Linked DNA regions of Homo sapiens: region 2 is linked to region 1. The links come from fine-mapping of genetic effects on gene expression. Tissue or cell type: lung. Region 1 holds a variant in brackets; the other region holds the start of a gene. All regions are shown on one strand. Distances are from middle to middle.

Evidence for each region. PIP is the estimated chance that this variant, and not a neighbour inherited with it, causes the effect.
Region 2: it holds the start of FFAR1, and the variant in region 1 is fine-mapped to the expression of FFAR1 in lung (TOPMed, PIP above 0.99). The same link has a PIP of 0.9 or more in adrenal gland, spleen, thyroid, transverse colon and uterus.

What each region holds. Positions count from the first base shown.
Region 1 is chr19:35,306,419-35,314,514 of GRCh38, reverse strand. MAG (myelin associated glycoprotein) reads right to left here. Exons shown (of 11, transcript NM_002361.4): 8 at 4,354-4,641; 9 at 3,872-3,968; 10 at 2,498-2,597; 11 at 708-1,225. The coding sequence ends at 1,061. Among named protein-coding and RNA genes, the nearest start is that of MAG, 18 kb to the right of the region's middle. RefSeq lists enhancers at 2,068-2,567, 2,568-3,069. The variant C/A (reference allele first, on the strand shown) is at 4,756.
Region 2 is chr19:35,344,043-35,352,138 of GRCh38, reverse strand. FFAR1 (free fatty acid receptor 1) reads right to left here and starts at 4,237. Exons shown (of 2, transcript NM_005303.3): 1 at 1,301-4,237; 2 at 1-934. The coding sequence starts at 587. It overlaps CD22 (CD22 molecule), which reads right to left. Exons shown (of 14, transcript NM_001771.4): 10 at 7,214-7,310; 11 at 7,013-7,088; 12 at 6,419-6,537; 13 at 5,904-5,988; 14 at 4,778-5,573. The coding sequence ends at 5,442. MIR5196 (microRNA 5196) reads right to left here and starts at 6,626; the gene lies at 6,512-6,626. RefSeq lists enhancers at 1,743-1,882, 1,923-1,972, 4,386-4,465, 5,066-5,165, 5,496-5,745 and a silencer at 2,907-3,107.

The DNA of each region.
Region 1 (8,096 bases):
AGAAGCATCAACCCCATGGCCTGGACACACCGTTTCCGAGCTCTGGGACCCTGGGAAAATCACCTAACTTCTCTAAGTCTCAGTGTTCTCATCGTCACAGAGCTGTCCTAGGAGACCCTTCTCAGGACAGCCTGAGCCTCTAGAAAGGGCTCAGTATACAGCTGGTGCTTAATTAATGTTTCTGGAACTGAATGTAGTGATGTATAAAGGCTGACGCTGCAAATTGCAGCATGAATGTGAGAGATGGTGGTGAAACCAACACGGGCTGGTGAGACCTAGATCTGTGGCTCGCACTCCAAGCTGCAGGGACCAGGAGGTAATCTCAGTGCAGGAAGCCGGCCAGGTGTGGGACAATAGGGAGTGGTGGGGACTGCGGCCAGTGCACAGGACCCTCCCTTTCAGCAAGTCATGTCCACGTACAAGTGCAAGCCTGGTGCTGTCAGCTGATCTGACTGCGGCAAAAACCAGCATGAGGATTTTTATGTGAAATCATCCATAAGTCAAACCAGACCCAGCTCGCAGCTACCAGCTCAGAGTGGGAGCAACTTAGTGGCCACTGGCCCTGGGTTCAAGGCTAAAATCCCTGGGCCCTTGCCTGCATACCAGGCTCAGCCGAGGGCAAGGAGAAATTCTGTCATCGTTCTGTAGACGGTGGGATGGCAGGCTGCCCAAAGGCGGGTCAGAAAGCATCAGGATCTAGACTGGCATTTGGCTTTGGGGCATTTATTTCATGTCCCTTTTGTACAGGCCCCAGGGCCAGGTGTGGGGGCAGGAGACCAGGCAGGAAGTAGCAATAAATAACACGGACAGACAGAGCTCCCCTCCAGACAGATGAGGGTAAAGGAGGTTAGAGAGGAGCCGTAATGAGGGCGTGGGGGTGCTGGCAGGGAGGGGCAGCTGGGAAGGAGGGGGAGGTCAGGCCCCCAGGACCTCACTGTCACCTGCCTCACTCCCCTCCTGCCCCAGCCCCCGATACTTTTGGGAGGAAGGGAGCCCACAGCCAGTGGGGGCCAGCGAGGGTCCTGAGGGGGGTCAGCCACGCAGGCTGCCCCCAGCTCCTTCACTTGACCCGGATTTCAGCATACTCAGCTAGCTCCTCCGTCAGCGTGTAGCTGTCCTTGGTGGGCCGTTTCCCCAGGTCCGAGTGAGAATAGCTCAGGTCCAGCTCTGGGGGCTCACCCCGAAGGCCCAGCAGCCTCCTCTCAGATCCCAGGCGCCTCTCGCTCTAAGAGGGGAAACCGCCCATTAGCAGGGTCCTGCTCCCTGCCTTTTCCCAATGCAGAGGACAGAGCGTTTGCACCCTCAGAGCTCCTGAGTTCAGTCCCAAATAAATCCCTGCGAGAACCTCCTTTCTCAAGGACCGCAGGCCCAGCGAGCCCTGCGGTCACCAGGTCCCACTCTGGAGCTTCTGCCAGTGTTAATCATTGCTGAACTTGAAATTTGCCTACAAATTCAGTTTCTCCAGGAAGCTGCTTCTTCTTCTTCTTTTTCTTTGAGACCCAGGCTGGATTGCAATGGCTCGATCTTTGCTCACTGCAGCCTCCACTTCCTGGGTTCCAGCAATTCTCCTGCCTCAGCCTCCCAAGTAGCTGGGATTACAGGCACCTGCCAACACGCCTGGCTAATTTTTTGTATTTTTAGTAGAGACAGGGTTTCACCATGTTGGCCAGGCTGGTCTCAAACTCCTGACCTCAAGTGATCCATCCGCCTCAGATTCCCAAAGTTGTGGGATTACAGGTGTGAGCCACTGCCCCCGTCCAGGAAGCTTTCAACATAGGAGTTTTGAGGGCACACAATGTAACCCCTAATACCTTTTTGGGTGAAAACCACCTAGTCAGGACCCCATCTTTCCAAATTCCTGGAAATACCTGGTTTGGTACGTGCCCCCCCATGGGTCCTGCATGGGTCCGCCCTCAATCTGGGAGGTCCTGCAGGTGACATGTGGGTTCCCCCCACGCTTCCCACCCCTCCCTCCACCCCCTAGCCACAGGAATTTGGACACACAGGACGGTGGCCACAGACAGAAGGGAGCTGCAACAGGACAGACTAGACAAGGCCAGCACTGCCGGGCAGGCCCGGACATCACCAGAGACCACCTTGACGCCTGACAGGGACACACGGACATGCACGCCAACCCCAGGGCCCAAGGAGGGCCCAGAGGAGGGCACACTGAGGCCCCCGGAACCTACCTCCTGGGGCACTCAGTGAGATTCCAGGGTAGAAACCTCTTTGGACTATTGGAGAAGGAAATGCAGTCACAGACACAGGCAGGGAGGGGAGGGGGCCCTTAGGCCCCACGTCCCATCGCCCCCTACACAGCTTCGGCCTGGGCACCTCCTCCCCAGCCTCCAGGTCCAACCCAGCCCTGGAATGTCCTTCCTCTCCTCCTGTGAGAGGCCGCTCCCACTCCCCTGCCCCTTGGCCTCACAGGCCTTTCCCAGGCCTTCAGTGTCCCTGGCATCCAGGTTCCCAGGCCAGCCTGGAGCCTGGTCCTTACCTCGTACTTCTCTGGTGCCCCAGAGATGCGGAAGTCGCTGCTGAACAGGACGGGAGGGTTGTCCCCTGCCGAGAAGCTGGGGCTCTCTGTCACGTTCTTTCTGCAGGGCAGGACTCGTCAGACCTCTCTCTGCCCTCCCTTTCTGCACCCCCACGTGTTTTAGGAGTTTGGCTCAGGGGACCTCAGAGTTCTCCCACCCATCTCTAAGATGTGGCAAGCAGCCCTTTCAGAACCACCAGCCTCTCCTACCCACACAGCCCATCCTTCCCACCTCTGTGGCCCCTGCCCGGCTGGGGACGAGCCACCTGGCCCCTGAGCTCTGCCGTTTTTCAGGACCCCCACCTGGATTCTCCAGGTTCCCCTCATAGGCTCTGGGTCTTTCTGCCCCTCTTGCCACCAGGATGTGGAGCAGAGGGGTTAATTTATTTCTCAGGACAGCTGATGTGTGTGTGCCACAAGAAAGAAACACGGCTGCAGCTGAGTTGGGCCAGGTGGGTATGGTTTGGGGCTGGAGAGGCTTTCTGTCTGTCTGTCTGTCTGTTTGTTTGTTTTTAGAGACAGGGTCTCTCTTTGTCACCTAGGCTGGAGTACAGTGGTGAAATCATAGCTCACTACAGCCTCAACCTCCCAGGCTCAAGCGATCTTCCCTCCTCAGCCTCCCGAGTAGCTGGGACAACAGGCACGTGCCACTAGTAGCTAATTTTTTTGTTTTTTTGTAGATGGGGTCTCCCTATGTTGCCCAGGCTGGCCTCTAATTCCTGAGCTCAAGAATCGTTCCACCTCAGCCTCCCAAGTAGCTGGGACTACAGTGTGTGCCACCATGCCTGGCTAATTAAAAAAAAATTTTTTTTAGAGATGTGGTCTTGCTATGTTGCCCAGGCTGGTGTCAGATTCCTGGCCTCAAGCAATCCTTCCTCCTTGGCCTCCTAAAGTGCGGGATAACAGGCGTGAGTCAACGCGCCCGGCCAAGGCCTATTTTTTTTTTGCCCCAGATGTGTGTAATCTTTGGGGCTTCTGGCGTCAAGTGGACCTGCTGCTGTGGCTGCAGTGGGGTACCTGGGCTTTCCCCACCACACTGGAGTGTGTAGGGGAGAGTTCCTAGAGATAGGGAGGCTGTCAAAATAGAATGTGGGCAAACAGGTCTCAAATGATGTGTGTAAAGGGCTCAGCCCAGGCCCTGGTGTGCCCCTGACCAGCAGGGGCTGGAATTAACAGGAACCCTCTCTCCTCTGTCCAGCTGAACATTCCCAGAACAGAATCTGCCTTCTCTACACTTATGGTGCTGCCTTCCCCCACCCACTCTGGGCCTCCATCTCCCACCAGGTCCCCTTTTTGGAGACTCCCATCCCCAGATCAGCCCCAGCTGGCACTCACTTCCTGCGTGTCTGGGTAATGTAGCAGACGATGGCAATCAGGATGGCAAAGGCGACCACGGCGCCCACAGGCCCGATCTTGGCCCACATCAGTCGATCTGAGGACAGAAAAGACCCAGGCGCCCTTAGGGCTATGGGTGGTGGTGACGACACCTGAGAACTTTGGAGACATGCTGGGATGACAGTCAATGTAGTCACACAGCCGGGGCATCCTTGCACTGACTGATTGGCACGGAGCCTCCTCGTGCCAGGGCAATCCCTTTCATGCTAGAGGGCCCTGGGGAGGGGCTCATGCCTCAAAGGTCCTAGCAAACTCGGGGCAAACTCAGGGCGGCTTCTCCTCTCCAACCGGAAAGGGAGAATTTGACCTTTCTGTCAATCTGCATAGCCCATGCTCTGTGGCTGTTGGTCAGCCTTGGGAGCTTGGATCTAAGACGTGCCCGCTCCCTCCTGTGGCTCCCACCCCAAGTCCACGCCACTCACGGGCTCCCTGGAAGGGCAGCTCCAGGCTCTTGGCGCCATAGAGGTTCCTCGCGGTGCAGATGACGCGGGGCGGGGCCTGGGCCTGCCCCCGCAGCGTGAGGATGCTGGTGAGCACGAGGCCGCTGCGCTCCGAGTACACGAACTCCCGCTCGCTCTCGTTCACGGTCACATTGCGCGATGGCAGCTCAAAGGCCACGGACGGCTCCGGGTTGGACTTCACCACGCACAGGCACTGCACCGTGTCTCGGGCTGCCGCGCAGTGGGACTCCAGGAGGAGCACAGGGGCGACTGCAGGGGCAAAATCAGGTCTGAGGGTGGCCCGGAGCCAACGCGAGGCCCGGCCCCGGAGACTCCTTGGCTCAAGGCAAGGCCAGTGTGGCCAAGGATGGGGGCGGTAGCTTC[C/A]TGTAGGGCCCTCCAATTTCCCCTCCTTTTTTCTCTGTCCTGACTGAGAGCGCCTTGACCTCACTACGACCCCGCCGGCTGCCTGTTTTCACTGCAAGCTTCACTAACCCACGCCTGGGGCCTTGAACATTCCCAGGCACTGATAAAGGTGTTTAGGTTGTTGCTCAAAACACTGAAAGAGGCCGGGCATGGTGGCTCACTGCTGTAATCCTAGCACTTTGCGAGGCCGAAGAGTGAGTGGATCACTTGAGGTCAGGAGTACGAGAGGTTACAGAATGAGACGCTGTCTCAAAAAAACCCCAAACAACAACAACAACAAAAATGAAAGAATGAAAGAAACCAGCCCCAGCCCTGGGCCAAATTCCTTAAACCCTCATGTAAACCCATACCCTGACCCTCACGGACGTGTCTGGGTAGACCCTCCCTTTCTCTCGCCGTAGCACTGTGCAAGTTCCCCTCCCAAATGCTTTGGACTGATGATCACCTGGTGGTTTAGTGCCTCTCTCTTTGGAATCCCAAGTGGCCTCATTTCGGGGTGGTTTGGGGTGCTCTCTTGGGGCAATTCTTCTGGTGCCACTTTTGAGGCGACTCTAGCCTCAGCTTCAGCCTGGACAGAGCACTATGTCACAGGGACGGGCCGTTTCTCCTGGGCCCTGGCTCTTACACTCTCTCTAACCTCATTCACCTTGTAATACATAAATCAGATCATGGCACTCTCTGCTCAAAACCCTCCTTCTGTTGCTCCGTGGTTCACCTAAAATACAAATCCTTTATTTTTTATCGTTTAGAGACAGGGTCTGGCCCTGTCGCCCAGGCTGAAGTGCAGTGGCAGTACTATAGCTCATTTGCACTCTTGGCCTCTAGTGATCCTCCCGCCTCAGCCTCCCAAAGTGCTGGGATTACAGGCATAAGCCACTGCGCCCAGCCACATTTGACCATTTTTGACATGCAGAAAAAATTTCACATAGTTCAATGTAATGTATACAGCAAAAAGTACGAATATTCACCCTAAATGAAATCAGTATAGATTACAAACAGCCTTGTGTTCTTTAGGCGAGATTTTGCTGTCAAATCAGGGTGGTGCCAAATTTGCAAAAAGCCTTTTGATTTTAAAGCTTTATGTTCAGAATTGCAGAGGACGGTAAATCTGTCATACTCATGATAGTTACTGGAGGGTTTTTGTTTGTTTTTGTAGAGACAGGGTCTTGCTATGTTCCCCATGCTGGTCTTGAACTCCTGAGCTCAAGCAATCCTCCTGCCTTGGCCTCCCAAAGTGCTGGGATTATAAGGCGCAAGCCACTGTGCCCAGCCCAAAATACAAAGTCTTTCATCTACAAGGCCCCTCAGGCCCTGCCTGACCACACACTCTCTCCTTCTCTCCCCCTGGCTTAGTCCTTTCCAGCCACACCGGTTCCTTGCTGTGTCTGAAAATCGTGGAGCTTTCTCCCACTCCAGGGTCTGTACGTTTCTCCCTCAACTTGGAACACTTCCATCAGTTGCCTGTGGAACGCCCTCCCTCGCTCCAAACTGGCCTCTACCCATGCGGCGTCTCCTTCTCTGACCACCCAGGGAAGCTGCACCTCGCTCCACGTATCATTCACTCCCTGCCTCACTCAGTTCTCCTCCCCAGCACTCACCCTCCCTGCATCACACACTTACATAAGGGGCCTCCTGTTTCCATCAAGACAGGGGCTTGCTCCTTCTCCACTCTGGGCCCCACACGTAGAAGGGAGGAACCATGGAACTCTCCCAGCCCCCGGCCTCCCCAGACCCTTGGGGCTCACACAGGCTTAGACTATCCCCTCCTTTCTGGCTTCCAGGCTGTGCTCCTTCCTTTCAGTCTGCGCTGCAGATGCCCCCCACTTCCTCCCCTAAAGCCGCCTTGAACCCCGGCCCTTCCTCACCCATGAGATTCCCTCCTGCCACTAGCACCAAACACCACCCTCCACCCAAAGTCACTTGGTTGAGCTTTGCTTTGCTGCCACTGGATTACAAAAATAGTACTGGTAGGTTTTTTCTTTCATTTTCCAAAACAGGAAATTATTATTATTATTATTGTTATTACTATGATTTTTGAGACGGAGTCTCTCTGTCGCCCAGGCTGGAGTGCAGTGGCACGATCTCTGCTCACTGCAACCTCTGCCTCCCAGGTTCAAGTGATTGTCCTGCCTCAGCCTCTTGAGTAGCTGGGACTACACGTGCGTGCCACCATGCCTGGCTAATTTTTGTACCAAAATACGCAATTGTATTACAGCACAGAATGCTGCTTTTTAAACTGTGTTCTCTTTCTTGGCCTGAGAGTCCAGCACCCTCCTTGGCTTGCTCTAGACTGAGCACTGGTTCTCAGTGAGTTCTCACCAAAACCCACTTACACACAGGCAAGAGACCCTTGGCTCACCTACCCCACCTATTTTCAATTGCTAGCAAAAAGAATGTGCCGGTAACGGTGGTGGACCTGGGAGTCACACGGGCACACGGATTCACGGCAGGAATGGGAACCTCTGTGCAAACATCTCTAAGTCTACTGAATAAAAAGTCCTGTTCGGGCAGAGCTGCAATATGCTTGCTATAGCGTTAACCAGCTAACACGCCACGGAGTACATTAATAACAGCGAACCTGAACCGACAGACATAAAACTTTTTCAAAGCACTTCCACTCAAGACAGCCCCACTGGTGCTCTGGTGACAAAGTGTTCGACCTGGATGTCGGCGGAACGCCGACACCCTGCCGGTGCACGTGCTTAGTATCTTTTCAGACAACCTGTGAAGCTGCGGAAACTGTTATGGGACTCTAGACAAACCTGTAAGACAAAGGTACAAAGAATGAGGAGTTTGTGGTGGGATGGATTTGGCTTGAATCCCAGCTCTGCCATCTACTGGCTGGGTGAGGCCACTCAGGCTCCTGGGCCTCTAGGATGGAGTTCTCATCTGTGCAAACCAGGGGGTTACAGTCAGTAACTCACAAGGGGCTACGGGACTCCGAAGATAGGCGCGCAAGTGTGTTGTAAACACTTAACATCCCAGCCGGGTGCAGTGGCTCACACCTGTCATTCCAGCACTTTGGGAGGCCAAGGCAGGAGGATCACTTGAGCCCAGGAGTTTGAGACCAGCCTGGGCAACAGAGCAAGACCCCATCTCTACAAAAAATTAAAACATTAACTGGGCATGGTGATGTGTGCCTGTAGTCCCAGCTACTCAGGAGGCTGAAGTGTGAGAATCAGTTGAGCCCAGGAGGTTGAGGCTGCAGTGAGCGATGATCAAACCACTGCATTCCAGCCTGGGCAACAGAGCAAGACCCTGTCTCAAAAAAATAAAAAATTAAAATTAAAAATACGTAACAT
Region 2 (8,096 bases), 38 kb before region 1:
GCCAAGGGCAGAAAAAAGAGCAGGAGAGAGAGGCTGAAGCGGGCCGGGCCGGCAGAGGCCGGGTCCCAGGCCTCCAGGCAGACCGGAGAGCCGTTGACCGGTGTGTTGATGCCCAGGGAGGTGTTGCTGTGGTCCAGCCAGCCTCCTGGAGCCTCCAACCCAAAGACCAGACCCAGGTGACACAGGACGAGGGCCCAGATGGCCGCGCACACCCCCCAGGAATAGCACGGCCTCCGGAAGGCTTGGTAGCCCAAGGGGAAGGCTGCTCCCAGGTAGCGGCCTGCACTCAGGGCGGCCAGGAAGCCCCCGCCGGCATAGAGTGGGAAGAAGTGGGCCACCGCGAAGACGGGGCACAGCGAGGCCGGCAGAGGCCAGGCCCCGGAGGCTAGCGCCTCCACCGCCTTCAGGGGCAGAGAGACTGTCAGCAGCAGGTCGGAGCAGCCCAGGTTCAGGGCGTAGACCAGGCTAGGGGTGAGACGGAGCCGGGCGTGGGCCGTCGCGCCTCGGATGGCCAGGACGTTGAGCGGGAAGCCCAGCGCAAAGGCGGCCACATAGAGGCCGAAGGAGAGCTGCGGGGGCAGGTCCATGGGGCCGCCGTCCTGGCCTGCACGGCTCCTGTGTGCAACCTGGCTCCCTGTCCTCAGATCTTGGGGCCCCGGAGAGGAGGGGCTCCTGGGATCACTCGCGGGTTCCAGCCCTGTGTGGAGAATTACAATTCACCTGGTGGGATCAGGGAGGAAACGAGGCCCACAGAGAAAGGCAGCAGTCAGGGAGCAGCGGAGCCTGGATGAGAAGCCAGGACCTGTGGCCCCCAGTCCTGTGCTTTCTCTCCACCATGTCACCTCTTAAAACCAGGGAAGCTCCTGCAGCGTCACAGGAGATAGGATGTGGCGCACAGGTCCCAGAGGAAGAAAGCTTCTCGATTTCTGAGACTCTGTGGGGAGGAGGGGTGGAGAGAATTCAGAACAGGGCTGGGCCCACAGCCTGAGCCTTCCCTGGGAATGGGAGTTTGACTCCTGAGCCCACTGCCCTCCCTGGTTCCCTGGCAAGGCAGGAGCTGCCCCCACCCCCCACCCACATTGGAAAGCCGGCGGGGCAGCAGGGAGGAGAAGGGTGTGGATAAGGTGAGGGTGTGGCCAGGGACAGGAAAAGGGGGTCCCCCAGGGAGAGCCCAAGGGTCAGCCAGGCCCCATCCATGTCACGGTTGAGCTTAGCAGTTCTCAGGGGCCACCTGGGCAGGGGGTCTGGGGGTCTGGGGAACAGTCAGGTGAAGAGAGGAGCCACAGAGAGAGGGACCCACCTCCTGGTGCTGCCAGATGTCTCTGAGGCTCAGCAGTCCCCTCAGCGGGCTGATGGAGGATGCCCGGGATGGGCAGTGAGCCGGAAGGGGAGGAGGGCGGGTGACAGGGCCATTAGCCTGAGGTTCTAGCAGCTTGGGTGAGCAGCTAATGGGGCATCCCGGCTGGAGGTGAGGCCACGCCAGAGGAGGTGAGGGGCTGGGAAGATGCAGGAACACAGAGGGGCCAGGGAGGAATTGGGGTCCTGTCTGGGTAGGGGCCGAGTGTGTAGCCAGTGCCTCTCAAGAGCAGGGCTTGGGGGCTCGGCCACAACCCAGCGCTATTCCCTCCCCAGCCCTCCTGCCTGTTCACACCTGCGCTGGGGCCAGGTCTTCTCCACCCTTGATGCACCCCTGGGCAGGTCCCGGGCCTCACTGGCTCACCCCTGACAACACAGGGTGCCCTGTGACTGCAGCCATGAAGCCATCTCCAAGTGGCAGTGGGTGTGTGGGGTAAGGAGTGATCACACCCGGGTGCGGTTCTGCACAGGCTGTGGGCTTGTTTTAGTTTTTGCGAGGAGGGCCCCTCTGTTCTCCCTCTGCTTCCGCACTAGCCCCATGGTGGTGGCTTCCGACCTTCCCAGGGCTGGAGGAAGGAGCGGGAGGAGGAAGGCAAGGGGCGGGGGCAGCCTCTGCTGACCAGCACTGGAGGGCCCAGGTTGTGGCCCCCACTCTGCCTGTCAAGGGGTGGCACAGATGTCCAAGCCGACTCCCCCCAGGGTGCATGGCTGGGGACACTGGGGGACACTCCCCAAGGCACAGGGAATGTGGCACCGGCCGGCTGCGTAGCTTCCTTCTCTCAGCCCTGGAAGTCCTCCCAGCCTTTCATGTTTCCCACTGGGGTCACCTGAGCCTCCCAGGAGGACCTAAGGAAGATTTCTAACCTCTCTGGATGCTCTCTCAGGTGTGCCCACGCCTGCTGGTGAGAAGCCAGCTCTGCTCTGTGATTCTGTCTCTGTCTCTCAATGTGCCCGTGTCTTTCTGTCTGTCTGTCAGTCTGTCTCTATTTCCTGCCTCAGAATGACAACACAGCTCTCCACATCAGTTTTCTCAGGCGTGTATGGGTCACCTGACCACTCTGCCCCTTCCGAATTCCAGGTCCCCCATCATAAACCTCTCTCTGTGTGGCCTCCTGGCAGCTCTGGTCACCAGGCTTCAGGGGGGACAGCAAGGGGGTCTCAGCCTATCACTAACTCCCTCAAAGACACCATCTCACTGCTTTTCATACCTCGGAGCCACTAAATTGGTCCATGCTCGCCTTTTTCTCGAGAGCAGCACCTGGGGTGCAGCGCCCGCTGTGAGCGGAGAACTGGCCTCCTACTGTTCAGTGTGTTGTTGGGAACTGAGAAATGGACAGAATGGAGGAAGAATCCACAGCAGTGTGGTTTCCCCTCCTGCAGCAAGAGCGAAGCCCTGGGGAGCCATTGGGTTTTCCAGATCTTCTCTGCTTTGGCCCCACCCACCTGGCGTCTGGATCTTTGCCCAAGGTCACCTTCTCCGAGGGCCTTCCCGGGTGCCTCAGCCACACTCATCCCTCCTGTGAATCTCACTTTTGTTGTCTTTCTTCAGTGCGACATCGTCTTGGCTGGCTCCTGAGCTAGAATGCCGGCCTCCTGAGGGCAAAGGCTTTGGTCTGCTTTGTCTACTACACGTTGCACAGCAGGTGTTTGGGAACCTAAATGCACGATCCATTGTCTGGACCCTGGGAGGACTGTGAGAGCTGGGGTTGTGGAGGGCGGCCTGCGTCTGGAGTCCTGGCCCCCTAGCTTCCTGGCCACCTGCTCTTCACCTGCTCTTCACGCCTCAGCAATGTCTATTGATGGCCATATCTCATGGTCAATCAGCCATGTAGTAGGTTTATGTCAGCAGCTGTGCTGAGGGACAGGGTGGGAAGGGGAAGATGCTCGATGGTTGCCAGGGAGCTTAAGCCAGGCCCTTCAGGCTTAGGACTGCCTCAGCTCCCTCCAGGGTATCTTGCCTTAAAAACCCTTGGCGGCTCTCGACTAGAGATCCCCAAGGTTGGTCCTACGCCTTATCTTTTTGGTGTCCTAACAACTGGCTCTGTACTGGGTGCATTTCCAGGTGCTCAGTATCTGTGTGCAGAATGAATGAAGAAAGAGTTGAATGACACCAGACCCCATTTTGGGCACAGACACCCCAACACCCTCCTGTCTCATTTAAACAGTTTTTGTTGTTGTTGTTTTGAGGCGGAGTCTCACTCTGTTGCATAGGCTGGAGTGCAGTGGCGTGATCTCGGCTCACCGCTACCTCCGCCTCCCAGGTTCAAGCGACTCTCCTGCCTCAGCCTCCCAAGTAGCTGAGATTACAGGTGTGAATCACCACGCTCAGCTAATTTTTGTATTTTTGGTAGAGACAGGATTTTACCATGTTGGCTAGGCTGGTCTTGAACTCCTGACCTCAGGTGATCTGCCCACCTTGGCCTCCCAGAGTGCTGTGATTACAGGCGTGATCCACCACGCCTGGGCTTTAAACAGTTCTTAAAGCCTCACCTTCCTCCAGAAAAGTTAATGGTGCTCACAAGAATCAAACCAGGGACAAAGTGGATTGATGGGGCGATCAAGGCCTCCCTGAACCATAATTCCTAGAGTTACCGTCCGGGTACTGAGCAGAGATGGGAGGGAAAGGAAGGTGGGAGAGGAAGGTGGCAGTTTGGGGACACCTGCCACGTGCCAGGAGCCAATCTCCCTGATGATCAGATAATTACACCCCTGCCCTCTAAGGAGAATGGGCTTTAGCCCCTTTGCAGAAGCAGGTGAATGGGTGGAGAAAGATCAAACCCGAGAAGCGGAGAGGGGAGCTGGGGCACCTAACTGGAAAGTCTGAATCAGTGAACAGAATTAGAGAACGGGTGCAGAGGACCTCGAATGACAGAAAAGCTGTGAGGTTTCTCAGGGTGGCTGGTCTTCAAGACTTTCTCTGGCAGCTATGGGTTGTGCAAGAATTGGGTAGCGTCACTTTTGGGAAGAGCTGTTTTGAATCGGCTTCCCCTTTTCACATTCTTCGAAAAATGCAAATAAAGGATGGAGGTTGGTTTTCTGGGGGACTTTCGGCTTCTGTGCTGGGTCTCAATGTGGCTCCAGCATATAGAAGACGATGCCTCACTTCCTATCGTGGGCCACCTGCGTGGTAGGCAGTGGCCTTTCCCTCTCCACTTTACAGATGGAGAAGCCGAGACTCAGGCAAGCTGGCGAGCCCTGCCAAGATCACCGGGCTAGTTAAGCCGAAGAATCAAGATTCAAGTTCTCATGTTTGTCTGTCTGCAAAGCCAGTATGCTTTTCCTAACAAGACACCAGACTCTCTAATCTGCTGGTTTGATCAGTAAACCACTGTGACTCCATTTCCTTCCCCCCAGGCCCCATGAAGACTTTCCCCTCTCCTCATCCCCACTCTGACTCCACAGACTGAAAAGAGTTCACTGGTTCTTTGAAGTGGCATCTGAGCCATTTTTATTGTGAGCTCTGTCTCCCTGGCAGGTTAATCCACACCAGTGTGTCCATCTCAAACCCGGAGTCCCCAGAGTCAAGGGGCCGCTGATACGTACGTCTCCCCGTGCAATGCCTCACTTCCAAAGGAGAAGCCAGGCCAGGACTGGGCCCCTTTCTACTTCGTTTCTGTCCTTTTCTGGGCTTTCCCTCAGAGGCAGAAACTGGGCATAATATTCGTGAGTGGGGATGTCAGATCAGGGGTAGAGGGCCAGAGAGATGGAGAAGGGAAGGAAAAATGATGACGAGCAGATCCCAGGAGGGACACAAGCAGCTGGGGGTGGAGATGGCCAGTGGCCGTGGTGGGGGCAGGGGGAGGTGTGCATGTCAGGGCAGGTATTTAGATGGATTTCTGGGTAGCAAGGAGAGTGGAAGAGAACAGGGGCAGGAGTTTTGGAGGTTTGGGGTTACCCTCACCAAAAAGACTGGCTCTGAGCCAGGCACAAGGTTCTCCGCAGTGAGTGTGTGTGTGTGTGTGTGCGTGTGTGTGTGTGTGTGCGCACATGCGCGCAGGAGGAAGCCATGTGGCGGTGTCTGGGGAAACTCGGGGACTTCCCTGGCCCCCGCTGCCCCCAGTGCCTCTGCTGCAGCCCATCCAGTGTCAATGTTTGAGGATCACATAGTCCACATTTTCTTGTGCCTGAGGCCGCTCCCCGACCCCAAACTGGATCAGCTCTGAGTAATGAATCCCCTCATCTTCTGGAAAATCTGGAATGACGTTCTCATAGTCGCCCTGAGAAAACCGCATGGTGGTTAGCCTGGCCCCACTGTCGCCAGCCTCCACCGCCGCTTTTCTCCGCATTCTCTCCTTCATTCCACCCGGGGGTCCAAAAGCCCAGGCGGGTGTCCTCGTGTCAGGAAACTGGCTGTGGCCGGCATCCAGGACCTGGAGGTACCTGCCTGGCTCTGGCCAGCTCTGCCGGAGCAACCGTCTCCAACACCCAACCTCTGCCACCACGGATGCCTACCCAACTCCTTCCTATGTGGGACCCACCACTGAGGCCAGGCCCTGTCCCCAGCCTTCCACAGCCCCTCTGGGGAGACCTGGGGAGACCCTCCTTACCACTTGGCGCTTGTGCAATGCTGAATAAGTGACCGTGTCATCGCAGTCCGGGGGAGGTCTCTGCATCTCTGAGGACTCTGCATCTCTGAGAGACAGGGCAGATAGACGACCACGCATGAAGCATCTCCCACGAACTCTCCTCCCTCTCAACACCCAGAGCCCCCAACAGCACCCCAACCTCAGCCCCTTATGTAAAACCTGTGGCCTCCCCAGTGCCCAAAGCTCACAGTAGGAGCTCGTGCAAATGTGCGTGGAGGGAGTAGGCGTGGGTGTGTATCATGAGGTCTTGATCTTTGTGATAAGAACGGACTGGGCATGTGTGCTGCTGACTTGAAGGAGCAGGTCCACTTCTGGAGACTGGCCCTTACCCAGAGGCTTGTTGCCGAGTGGGAATGAGGCAGAGCATGTATCAGGGTGCCTGGCATGGGCCTGGCACAAAGAGGGCAGGCGGGACAGAGCTTTTCCTCCCGCCTCCCTCCCAGGGTGCAGGGTCACCCTCCTGGTACCCTCAGTACCCAGTTCGTGGTATGTTCATCTCGGGAAAGCGCAGGGTGGTGTAGCTAATGCCATCTTCCATCATTGGATTGTAGCATCCCAGGGAGTGGGGGCCTTCAGAGAGGGGGGCCCTTCTAACCTGGGAGGGAGACGAGGATGAAGTGCTAACCACCTGTTCCCCAACCCTCGTCCCCTTCCCTGGCCTCTGACAGCCCAGGTCTCCTCAGAGGACATTTTATCCCCTTCCTTCACCTTGTTTCCCCACTCAGCTTCACAGTCTGCCTCATGCCTACCCTTTTTTTTTTTTTTTTTTTTTTTTTGAGGCAGAGTCTCAGTATGTCACCCAGGCTGGAGTGCAATGGCGCAATCTTGGCTCACTGCAACCTCTGCCTCCCAGGTTCAAGCGATTCTCCTGCCTCAGCCTCCCGAGTAGCTGGAATTACAGGCATGGACCATCACGCCCGGCTAATTTTTAAAATATTTTTTGTAGAGACAGGGTTTCACCATGTTGGCTACGCTGGTCTCGAACTCCTGACCTCAGGTGATCCACCTGCCTCAGCCTCCCAAAGTGCTGGGATTACAGGCATGAGCCATCGTGCCCAGCCCCATCCTACCTTTTTATTCCTCACAAAGAAGCTCTGGCCGCTGGAATTCTCCTGAAGCCCCTGCTGGCTCTGTGTCCTCTTCCAACTGAGAAATAAAGGCACATGTGTGAGGGTCAGGGACTCCACAGGCTGGAGGCTTCGAGATGGAGCAACTGGACACGGGCCTCTGCCAAGGGATAGAGGAGGTGGTGGGGGATGGCAGGAGCTCACCGTCGCTGGAGCTTGAGCCCACAGATTGCCAGGATGAGGATGGCGAGGCAGGACCCGAGTCCCACAGCCACTCGCCTGCCGATGGTCTCCGGGCTATCTGGGTGGAGAAAGGAGAGACCTTAATCAACTGAGGGGCCAGCTCTCCCTGGCAGCCTTTGCCTGGAAGGCATCCTGGACTTCTCTCTGCAGCCAGACTCGTCCTTCTCCCCTGCATGCGTGCAGGGGTGCAGAGGAAGAGGGTGACAACGGCCCCTGCTTGCTCTGGGCCTCCCTTTAGGAATAAGGCACTAATTCTCCTGAGGAGCTGCTTTTCCCACAGACGTGGCACGCCCAGAGCCTGTGACCCGCACCCGCATAAATGGGTGCAGCTCTTCACGGCAGTATAGCTGTGTGATCAGCTCTGAAAGTGCACCTGTCTTCCACCCAGCAATTCCACATGGGAATGCATCTTGCAACTGTCCTTGCAGGCGTGCCCAAAACAAGAGGCTGCAGACCTAGGCCCTGAAGAGGGCACTGGGAGGAGGATGTATGCAACCTTCATACGCGAGGACTCCATGGCCCCAGGAAAAAGAGGAGGCTCTCAGGCTGTCTGCAAAGGGGATACCCAGGGAACAATGGTTTTATATGATGGGATGTGTCTGTTACATTTCCAGATAACATGTTTCAGATGTTTTCCTTTGGCCTTCGGCCGTGCTGGTGATGGTTCCCTAGATTGACTGATTGATTGATTGAGACAGAGTCTCGCTCTTTCACCCAGGCTGGAGTGCAGTGGTGAGATCTTGGCTCACTGCAACCTCTGCCTCCCGGGTTCAAGCGATTCTCCTGCCTCAGCCTCCCGAGTAGTTGGGACTACAGGTGCGCGCCACCACACCCAGCTAATTTT